Homo sapiens: one gene and its partners. The protein of the gene in region 1 purifies or fractionates together with the protein of each later gene. This does not show direct contact. Each region holds a gene or a part of one and is shown in the gene's direction. Other genes may lie near its edges.

What was found.
Region 2: the proteins of RUBCN (region 1) and SPATA33 purify together in Homo sapiens (affinity purification with mass spectrometry; one large-scale study listed by BioGRID and IntAct). This does not show direct contact.
Region 3: the proteins of RUBCN (region 1) and STXBP4 purify together in Homo sapiens (affinity purification with mass spectrometry; one large-scale study listed by BioGRID and IntAct). This does not show direct contact.

What each region holds. Positions count from the first base shown.
Region 1 is NC_000003.12:197,730,297-197,733,952, reverse strand, and holds part of RUBCN (run domain Beclin-1-interacting and cysteine-rich domain-containing protein), read left to right. Parts: intron 1-3,656.
Region 2 is NC_000016.10:89,660,741-89,664,396, forward strand, and holds part of SPATA33 (spermatogenesis-associated protein 33), read left to right. Parts: exon of another isoform or gene 1-768; intron 769-3,656. UniProt on the Homo sapiens protein: Plays an important role in sperm motility and male fertility. Required for sperm midpiece flexibility and for the localization of sperm calcineurin to the mitochondria. Promotes mitophagy as well as acts as an autophagy mediator in male germline cells.
Region 3 is NC_000017.11:55,167,619-55,170,958, forward strand, and holds part of STXBP4 (syntaxin-binding protein 4), read left to right. Parts: 3' UTR 1-3,340. UniProt on the Homo sapiens protein: Plays a role in the translocation of transport vesicles from the cytoplasm to the plasma membrane. Inhibits the translocation of SLC2A4 from intracellular vesicles to the plasma membrane by STX4A binding and preventing the interaction between STX4A and VAMP2.

The sequences.
Region 1 (3,656 bases):
CACCCTATGCTGCCTCTCACTATGCTAATAGTAACAACGGAAGTATAAGATAGTGAATAAATTTCACAGCATTCTGTGCCTGTCATTCAGGCCAGTAGGATAGCTCCTTTGCAGAATCTTTTCCCGTCTTTTATTCTTTTTATGATTGCCTCTTAACCAAAAAACTTTAATCAAAACTTAATTTTAGTAGTGGGGTTATCCTCACAAAGTCACTCCCGTCATTGTTATAGGCATACTGTGTTGGCGGCTGATTAATTCAGAATGCGTTGTTTAATGAGGCTTCATGGTACTGATGGCCTCCTTAGCTCCAGATACACAACTGGTAAATACACATTCCTTGTGCCTATTAATTGAGGCTTTGTGACTGGGTTACTGCAAACATAACCTTTCTATGGCCAATGAAATACCCAGTTCAGAAACAGTCTTCTTGATGAGATAGCATCATTTTTATTTATTTATTTATATATTTTAAAGATAGGGTCTCACTGTGTCACTCAGGCTGGAGTACAATAGTGCAATCGTAGCTCACTGCAGCCTCAAACTCCTGGGCTCAGGTGATCTTCCCACCTCAGCCTCCTCAGTAGCTAGGACTACAGGTGTGTGCCACCACTCCCAGCTAATTTTTAATTTTTTCAGATTTTTTGTAGTGACAGAGTCTCACCATGTTGCCTAGGCCAGTCTCAAACTCCTGGCCTCAAGGGATCTTGCTGCCTTGGCCTCCCAGAGCACTGGGATTACAAGCATGAGCCACTGTGCCCAGCCGGTAGTGTCATTTTAAAAATGAAGGATGAAACTTTTCAGTGTATTTTCCTTAAGTAGTTGATATAATGAAACGTGAATAAGCTTTAAAGTCAGACCTGCATTTGAATCCTAGTTCACGGATTAATTTGGCTTAACTTGATCAAGTTACTTTACGTAACCTGCCTGAGTAGGAAGAATAATGCTTTCCTGCCTGAGAAGTTCTGAGGATTCAATAAAACAATGTGCATAAAGCTCCTGAGAGCCTGATACGTAGGAAGTAGGAAAAATGTCGAATCCACCCCTTGCTAGTTTTTTTGAAATAAGGCGAGGGTCTCCCCCACAAGTGACTGTTTGCAAGGGTATCACTTGTTCTTCCTCTTTCAGTGGCTCCTTCATCCGAGTTGAACACATTGGGACCTAGAGTGTTGGCTTAGCTTCCCACTTCCCCGGTAGTGTGCTTAGGTGATGGGCTTCCCTATTGTTTTCCGTCTAGCTATCACTCCAGCCAGATGCTCTGGGGCTTAGGGATGATACTTCACTTTCCCTCCGTTTCCTAAATGCCAGTTATTTTGAGGTTGCCTGGTAAAACTACTACACTACACTGGGCACGGTGGCTCACGCCTGTAATCCCAACACTTTGGGAGGCCAAGGTGGGTGGATCACGAGGTCAGGAGATCGAGACCATCCTGGCTAACACAGTGAAACCCCGTCTCTACTAAAAATACAAAAAATTAGCCAGGCGTGGTGGCAGGCGCCTGTAGTCCCAGCTACTGGGGAGGTTGAGGCAGGAGAATGGCGTGAACCCGGGAGGCGGAGCTTGCAGTGAGCCGAGATCACGCCACTGCACTCCAGCCTGGGAGACAGAGTGAGACTCGTCTCAAAAATACCCAAACTACTAGACTGGTAAACTGCTAAAGGAATGGTCTTTCTGGCATTGCTCTGTCTCCCTAGACCGCCTTGGCCATGCAGTGTACTGTCTCCCTAGACTGCCTTGGCCATGCAGTCTACTGCTGAGCTTGCAGCTCAGGTACATGTACTGCTCAGTGCTCCTGGCACCGTGATCCAGGTACAGTCAGAATTCAAGGAGTAAGATCCGTTTTAGCATCTCCAAACTAAGCTTATTCCACTGACCAAAACCTGCCCCTCCTCTGATCTCTGTTAATAGCATTTTCCACTCACTCAACATGCCAGAGCGTCAGAGTGACATTTGACATTTCGCTCTTCTCTATTTCCCATATGTAAGCAGTCACCAGGGTCTAAAATTCTGTTCCTAATTTTTCTTTTGAAGCCTTCTTTTTCTCTCCATTTCCAAATATAATGGCTTATAGTACTAAAAAATCTAGGGTGACTGGGAAGTGAGGAGCCACTCTGCCCGGCCAGCCGCCCTGTCCCGGAGGGAGGTGGGGGGGTCAGCCCCCCGCCCGGCCAGCCGCCCCATCCGGGAGGGAGGTGGGGGGGTCAGCCCCCCGCCCGGCCAGTCGCCCCATCCGGGAAGTGAGGGGCGCCTCTGCCCGGCTGCCCCTACTGGGAAGTGAGGAGCCCCTCTGCCCGGCCAGCCGCCCCGTCCGGGAGGGAGGTGGGGGGGTCAGGCCCCGCCCGGCCAGCCGCCCCATCCGGGAGGTGAGGGGCGCCTCTGCCCGGTCGCGCCTACTGGGAAGTGAGGAGCCCCTCTGCCCAGCCACCACCCCGTCTGGGAGGTGTACCCAACAGCTCATTGAGAACGGGCCATGATGACAATGGCGGTTTTGTAGAATAGAAACGGGGGAAAGGTGGGGAAAAGATTGAGAAATCGGATGGTTGCCGTGTCTGTGTGGAAAGAGGTAGACATGGGAGACTTTTCATTTTGTTCTGTACTAAGAAAAATTCTTCTGCCTTGGGATCCTGTTGATCGGTGACGTTACCCCCAACCCTGTGCTCTCTGAAACATGTGCTGTATCCACTCAGGGTTGAATGGATTGAGGGTGGTGCAAGATGTGCTTTGTTAAACAGATGCTTGAAGGCAGCATGCTCCTTAAGAGTCATCACCACTCCCTAATCTCAAGTACCCAGGGACACAAACACTGCGGAAGGCCGCAGGGTCCTCTGCCTAGGAAAACCGGAGACCTTTGTTCACTTGTTTATCTGCTGACCTTCCCTCCACTATTGTCCTGTGACCCTGCCAAATCCCCCTCTGCGAGAAACACCCAAGAATGATCAATAAAAACAAAAACAAAAACAAAAAACCTCTAGTTAACACATAATAATGCCCGCACTGAGCAGATGTTCACTAAGGTGTTGAATAAATAGTTGAAACTGTAAAAAAAAAAAAAAAAAAAAAAAAAAAAAAGATGCTTTTAAAATATGAAAAAAAAAGATATTTTAATGAGAAAAGCTGAGTGTTGGGAGAGAAGCTGATGCAGGGCTTGCATGTCTGCTAGACTTGCTGGCTCCTTGCTTCTAGCACTCCCATTATCTCAAGCAGCCATATGTTTCTCATTCACTTGATACACTGTTTCCTTTCAACCCCCACATCCTCACCACCTGTTTCTTTGTTTGATCATCAATAAATGGTGTGGGCTCCCAGAGCTCCGGGCCTTGGCACAGCATCCACACTCGTGATGGCCCCCTGGTCCCACTTTCTCTCTCAAAAAAAAAAAAAAAAAATCTAGGGTGTACTGTTGCTTCAGAAATGCCCAAATATGGGTGTTCAAATTAAGAATTTGTCTCTGTCTCTGGGCTCTGCTTCCAGATGTGTTGTTTTCATTCTCAGGTAGACTATTCTACAGGTTACCATAGCAACTCCAAGCTTAGCAATACCAGCAACAAGAAAGATGCAGTCCCAGCAGCTCCAGCAAAAGCAAAAATCCCGGGGCTGACTCTTTTTGGACTGACTTGAGTTATGTTTCTGTTCTTGTGGTCGGGGTATGGGCTATTCT
Region 2 (3,656 bases), on another chromosome or scaffold:
ACAGCTGAGCACAAGAGGACTTTGGAGGGTGATGGAAATGGTTTTCGACCTGAATCTGAACATGGGAAGCACTGCAGTTTAGTAGTCCTGGTCCCTAAGCCCTTCCAGCCCAGGAGCCAGACCTGTGAGCAAACAAGCCTTTAGTGATTCCAGGCTCTGGCTGGAACCTTGAGTCTTCTCAGCTTGGGGCATGCACCTCAGGGGGAGCCAGCATCAGTGTCCAGCCCCAAGAGCTTCCCTGTACGTCTCAGTGAGTCTTCACATGCCTCCAACTGCCTGGACAACCACACGTGATACCTGTCCTGCCAAACGTGTCCTGAACCCATAAAATCCAGAGAAAAGAAAATCGTTTTAAACTGCTGAGGTTTGGGGTAAGTTACTATGAAGCAGTAGTGAGAAGAACAGAAGGGCCATGATGGGGAGAAAGTTTGGCCATAAGTTAATCACTGTGGCAGCTGTTAGGATATTGATGTGGCTTGGCTGTGTCCTCACCCAAATCTCATTTTGAATTCCCACATGTGGGAGGAACTGGGTGGGAGGTGATTGAATTATGGGGGCAGGTCTTTCCTGTGCTGTTTTCGTGATAGTGAATGAGTGTCACGAGATCCGATGGTTTTAAAAACGGGAGTTTCCTGCATAAGCTCTCTCTCTGCCTGCTGCCATCCATGTAAGATGTGACTCGCTCCTCCCTACCTTCCGCCGTGATTGTGAGGCGTCCCCAGCCATGTGGAACTGTAAGTCCATTAAACCTTCTTCCTGTGTAAATTATTCAGTCTCTGGTATGTCTTTATTAGCAGCATGAAAACGGACTAATACAGATAGATGTATTATACTGTTACCCCTACTACTTCTGTATATGCTTAAATTTTTGCATTACAAAATTCACAAACATACAAACATTATAGAGAACTAACATCACAGATTTACAGTCACCTTATTCCACAATGTTGGAAATTCTACCACAAATAAAGAACTTGAAAAAAAAGGAGGGGATGTTAGAAGGAAATCTGAGCGACCTAGACCTGGGCTCAGTCACGCCTGAGACAGTCAGATGGGGTATCTGAGGATGAGTCAGTGTTAATTTTCTCAGACCTGGGCTCCGTCACTCCTGAGACAGTCAGATTGGGTATTTGAGGATGAGTCCGTGTTAATTTTCTTAGATGTGGGAATGCTATTATAGTTACGCTAAAACACAATCCCTATCTAATAAATACACTGCAACATTTATGGGTAAAATCATATGTCTGAAATTCCTTAAAGATACTCAGAATGCCAGGCATGGTGGCTCATGCTGTCATCCCAGCACTTTGGGAGGCCGAGACGGGTGGATCACTTGAGGTCAGGAGTTCGAGACCAGCATGGCCAACATGGTGAAACCCTGTCTCTACAAAAAATACAAAAAAATTAGCTGGGTGTGGTGGTGCACACCTGTAATTCCAACTACTTTGGAGGCTGAAGCAAGAGAATAGCTGGAACCCAGGAAGCAGAGGTTGCAGTGAGCCACGATCATCCCACTGCACTCCAGCCTGGGCAATGGAGTGAGACTCCATCTCAAAAAAAAAAAAGATACTCAGGAAAAAAACGAAGAAAGAACAAGATAACAAAATACTGATTGAAGCTGAGTGCTCTATAGGTGCAGGTGCTCATTCACTATTCTATTTTCTTGTGTGTTTGAACACTTTTTTTTTTTTTTGAAATGGAGTTTCCTTCTTGTTGCCCAGGCTGGAGTGCAATGGCATGATCTCGGGTCTCAACTCACTGTAGCCTCCGCCTCCCAAGTTCAAGTGATTCTCCTGCCTCAGCCTCCCAAGTAGCTGGGATTACAGGCGCCCGCCATGACGCCCAGCTAATTTTTTTTGTATTTTTAGTAGAGATGAGGTTTCGCCACGTTGGCTAGGCTGGCCTCAAACTCCTGGCTTCAGCTGATCCACCCGCCTCGGCCTCCCAAAGTGCTGAGATCACAGGCGTGAGCCACCGCACCTGGCCTCCCAGAGCGCTGGGATCACAGGCGTGAGCCACCACGCCCAGCCTGTTTGAACACTTTTGTGACGTTTTGTTGTTTGTTTGTTTTGAGATGGAGTCTTGCTCTGTTGCCCAGGCTGGAGTGCAGTGGCACAATCTTGGCTCATTGTGACTTCCGCCTCCCGGGTTCAAGCAATTCTTCTGCCTCAGCCTCCCGAGTAGCTGAGACTACAGGTGTGCGCCACCATGCCTGGGTAATTTTTGTATTTTTAGTAGAGACGGGGTTTCACCATGTTGGTCAGGCTGGTCTCAAACTCCTGACTTTGTGAACCACCCGCCTCAGCCTCCCAAAGTGCCAGTGTTACAGGTGTGAGCCACCACGCCCGGCCTGTAACATTTTCATGAAGGTAGAGTATACTTAATTGCAAGAAAATTTTGAAAAAGAAGAGAAATGGAACACTTCTATTGGCTATTAAAAAATACCATGCTGAGTGAAAAAAGCCAATCCCAGAAGGTCACATGCTGTATGATTCCATTTCTTTTTTTTTTTTTTTTAGGCTGGAGTGCAAATGGCACGATCTTGGCTCACTGCAACCTTGGTCTCCCGGGTTCAAGCAATTCTACCTCGGCCTCCGGAGTAGCTGGGACTACAGGCATGCGCCACCATGCCCAGCTAATCTTTGTATTTTTAGTAGCGATGGGGTTTCTCCATGTTGGTCAGGCTGGTCTCAAACTCCCGACCTCAGGTGATCCGCTTGCCTCAAACTCCCGATCTCAGGTGATCCGCTTGCCTCGGCCTCCTGAAATGCTAGGATTACAGGCGTGAGCCACCATACCCGGCCGTGATTCCATTTCTGTAACATTCTCTGAATGACAAAATTATAGACAGGGAGGACAGATTGTTGATTGCTAGGGCCTTGGCGTTGGGGTAGGGAGTGAGGGGGTCTGTGAAGGGCAGGGCTTTGGGGTTGGGGTAGGGAGTGGGTGTGTCTGAAGGGCAGCAGGAGGAAGATGGGATTGTTGGTTTTGGTGGTGATTGATTAAATGGCGTAGCTGTACATACACTCATAGTACCGGAGTCCATTTCCTCGTGTCGATAATGGTACTATAGTTATATAAAACGTTCGCTTTGGGAGCCAAGCACAGTGGCTCACGCCTGTAATTTCAGAACTTTGGGAAGCCTAGGCAGGCAGATCACTTGAGCCCAGAAGTTCAAGACCAGCCTGGGCAACATGGTGAAACCTGATTTTTACAAAAAAGACAAGAATTAGCTGGGTGTAGTGGAGTGTGCCTGTAGCCCCAACTAATCAGGGGCCTGAGATAGGAGGATCCCTTGACCCCATGAGGTTGGGGCTGCAGTGAGCCAAGATCGTGCCACTGCCCTCCAGCCCCGGCGACAGAGTAAGACCCTATTTATGCTTCCTAGCAAGGAAAGACAGTACACATATTGAAGAATTTGACTGCGTTAAAATGTTAAACCTCTCCCCAAACTCTTATAAACAATTGTAGAACAAATGATAAGCTCAAAAAAATATTTACATCTATGAGAGGCCAAAGAATATCAGTTGACTCTGGATCAGGGGCTCGGACACGTTGCTGTGGAGGCACACATCTTCCTGGAAGGCGGTTTGGTAACAAGGTGGCAGGACTCAAGACAGCCCACACGATCCCTGCCCCTGGGAAACAGCCATGTG
Region 3 (3,340 bases), on another chromosome or scaffold:
GAAGGGTAGATAAAGCCTGAAACCAAAATACAAGGTTAGTGCATTTCAGAGCAGCAGCAAACTTCTGTTCTTATGGGTTAATTAATCATGTTACTGAAGAATTGATTTGGCACAAGGGAGCTATGTATTGCCACAGAACTCTGAAATTGCAGAAATTATCTCATCTATAAGTAACCCCACTGGAATTGCTTGACTGTTCTGTTTCACAGTGGAGAAATTCATCTTTCATCAGCACACACGAGAAGAGACAACAGGAAGACAAAACAAATTGAGTAGATAATAAAGTTACCTTATAGGAATAGGTAATATAGACAGGTAAGGTCAGAAATTTCTGTGGAATGGAATATGAAAAGATGTTTATGAGCAGATTCTATTTCTTTAGGCAGTTTTATCATTCAGAGAAGTAATCTATGCATTTAATCTAATGCCAGCTTTTATTTTTCTTTGGTGATTACCACACAAAAATAAGAAGTTGGCACCAAATTAAATGCATGGATTACTTCTCTGATAAAAGTACTCGATATAAGGGAAATTTGAAGGAAATAGAATGCATACATACACACACATACACTTAGTATATGTGTGTGTGTGTGTGTGTATATATATATATCTGTGTGTATATACACACCACACACACACACACACACACGTATTGGAGGAATAAGAAATATTTAATAAAATCTACACAATTTCAAAAATATGACCAAATACTGGTGGTTCCTCATTTACCAGTAGAACTCTCTCTACAAATGGAAAGTGAGAAGTCTATGAAGTTACCTTAGTTTTTCCAATTAAGACTGTTCATTGATTGTATTTCTTCTGTCTCTATAAGTACCATATTCCCAATTAGTATTTCATCAGTTATAAGACCCATCATTATTTTGTGTGTAACTGAAAATGAAAAAAAGATTTAAAATATGACTTAGTAGTTAGAATTTTTATCTTATACGCCTTTAAGTAAATACAAGAGAACTGTTTCAGCATAGATTTTTAAAAATCATGTGTGTAAAAGAGAATGAAATATTAATTATGATATTTACAAAGCTCTGTACATTCAGAATTGAACTCTTTCTGCATCTCTTTTTTGAATCAGAGTTGTCATAAACCACAATTTTTCACGGTAACACCCTCTCTGCCATCAGGATAAATAACATTTCTTAAAGGAATATTCTACTGCAGTCTCTGAGATTTTTTTCCCTGTCTTAGACATCCATTCTACAACTCTGATGCTGGCACATTTTTTATCTTGGCAAAAGGACTTAATAGAAAAATTTTAGATAACAATCAGGATTCATACTCTTCTCAATAGTCCTTAAATGGTTTATTGACCAAAAAGTAAAGAAGTAACAGTCCAGTCATATCATGGAAAGAACAACCAAATTCATGCATGCACAGGCAAAGACAACCATATCACTATGACCACCTGGCTGACAGTAACTGCAGGACATCAATTATTGTAAGACACTTCCTGTAATATGTTTAATTCCTCTGACATAAGGATTTATGTGAATTAGGAAGTGGCCCAAGGGTGAAAAGTAATAGGGAAATAGAGAAATAGAACCGATCCAAAGGAAAGGGGGAAAAAAACCCACAAAAAGTGTGATGTCAAGCAAAGCCTATTCTGGAGATGACTTTGGTTCACTCCCACGGGAGAGCCCTAGAGACAAAAAGGTTCTACAGTAGGTTCAAGTCAGAGGCCAGAGAACCCAGAGTATTTATACCTCTGCACCATCAGTTATTGAATGGGGGTGGGGGTGGGGGTGGGTGTAAATTTCCAGGTGCTTCCAGCCTGCAATGCAGTCAAAGCATGTTCCTGTAGCCTGAGGACAGCCGTCCAACAAAGAGGTGCAGGTGCTGAATGTTGAGAGTGAAAGCACAGGGAGCTGTCATGCATGAGAGTGGTAGAGGGATCTGAAAGTGCTAGCAGTGCCTATTATACATCCAAATACTAAAGACGCTTAGATGTGAAAAATGTGTGTCTTAGAATCGATAAAATATGGTATAGAGAATCAAGTCTCCTTGTTCCTGGTTTATCTCATAGCATACTTAAAATTCAGCTAAAGATGAAATGCCTTAACAAGTGAAATGGGCTTTCTGAAAAATTATTTCAATCAAAATTGTGTTAAAAGCTATTTCTAAAAACCCTAACATGAAATACTTAGAAGAGATCAAGTGGTTTGTCCCTGGACATTCAAGCAATTGAATGTCTAAACAATCCAAGACAGATAATTTTGTAGTATTTACTGTGTGAAGTGAACCTTTAAGGCTGTGGACAATGCAAACTCCCTCATGTACCTTGCTCCTTGCCAATTTCAAACAAACCTTCTCACCTATGATATAAGGCTTCCTTAGAATTATTGATTAATTATTTAAGATACAATAAAACCAAAGTATTTTTAAAACACAGTAATTATGTTAGTGCAGGTACATGACATAGATATCCTCAAATATTCTTAGGACATCTATAAATCACCACAAACATTCTGGAAAGCAGTCTTGGAACATCTATCAAAGGCCTTAAAAATTTCTTCTTCTGTGAATTTATCCTCACAAATGACCCCAAGTTTAGACCAAAATAAAAAAATGCTTAAAAGGCTTATTAAAGCATGATTTAAAATAGAAATGATTGCCTAAATTCCTGAAAACAGGGGAATGTCTAAATAAAATATGGTATCTAACATGATAGAAAATGTTTACTAATGTTTAATGATACCAAGAAAGTATCACAATAATAACATCAAGTGGTAATAACAGGAAACAGATCTGTATACAATATAAAACCAACAGTATTGTATATATAAACACCATAGAAGATCTGAAAAAAAATTAGATGACATTATTTGTGATATCTATTTTATTTATTATATTTTTCTGCATACTACTCTACAGTGAGCCTGTCCTTTATAAGAAAAAATGCTAATGATTTATTGTGTATGAAAAAAGTGTATCTGATTTGATTATATATTTTTATTTCCACTTATATTTTCTAGGATTATTTTGCTTTAGAATTCTATGTATAATCCTGTGAAAATTTGTAGTGTTGTAGGGACTGGAAAGATCAGAGATTATGTTATGGCCATGAATGAGGCCTGACCTGCATTGTCAATAACTAAATTGATTATTGTGGAAACAACAAAAAAATTCATTTTTTGAAATGAAAATCTTTATTGAAATAACTATTTTACCATTGTGTGGTCAGATTCACTGCATTTGATGCTTTTTCAGGATTTGTTTTTCCTGCTAGAAATGCTAGAGTTGTCACAGATGTGATATTTATGTTTTCATTGTCTGGGGAGGGCCAAGTTTCATGACAGAGAAAGACTGGGGCCAATTCTGTGAT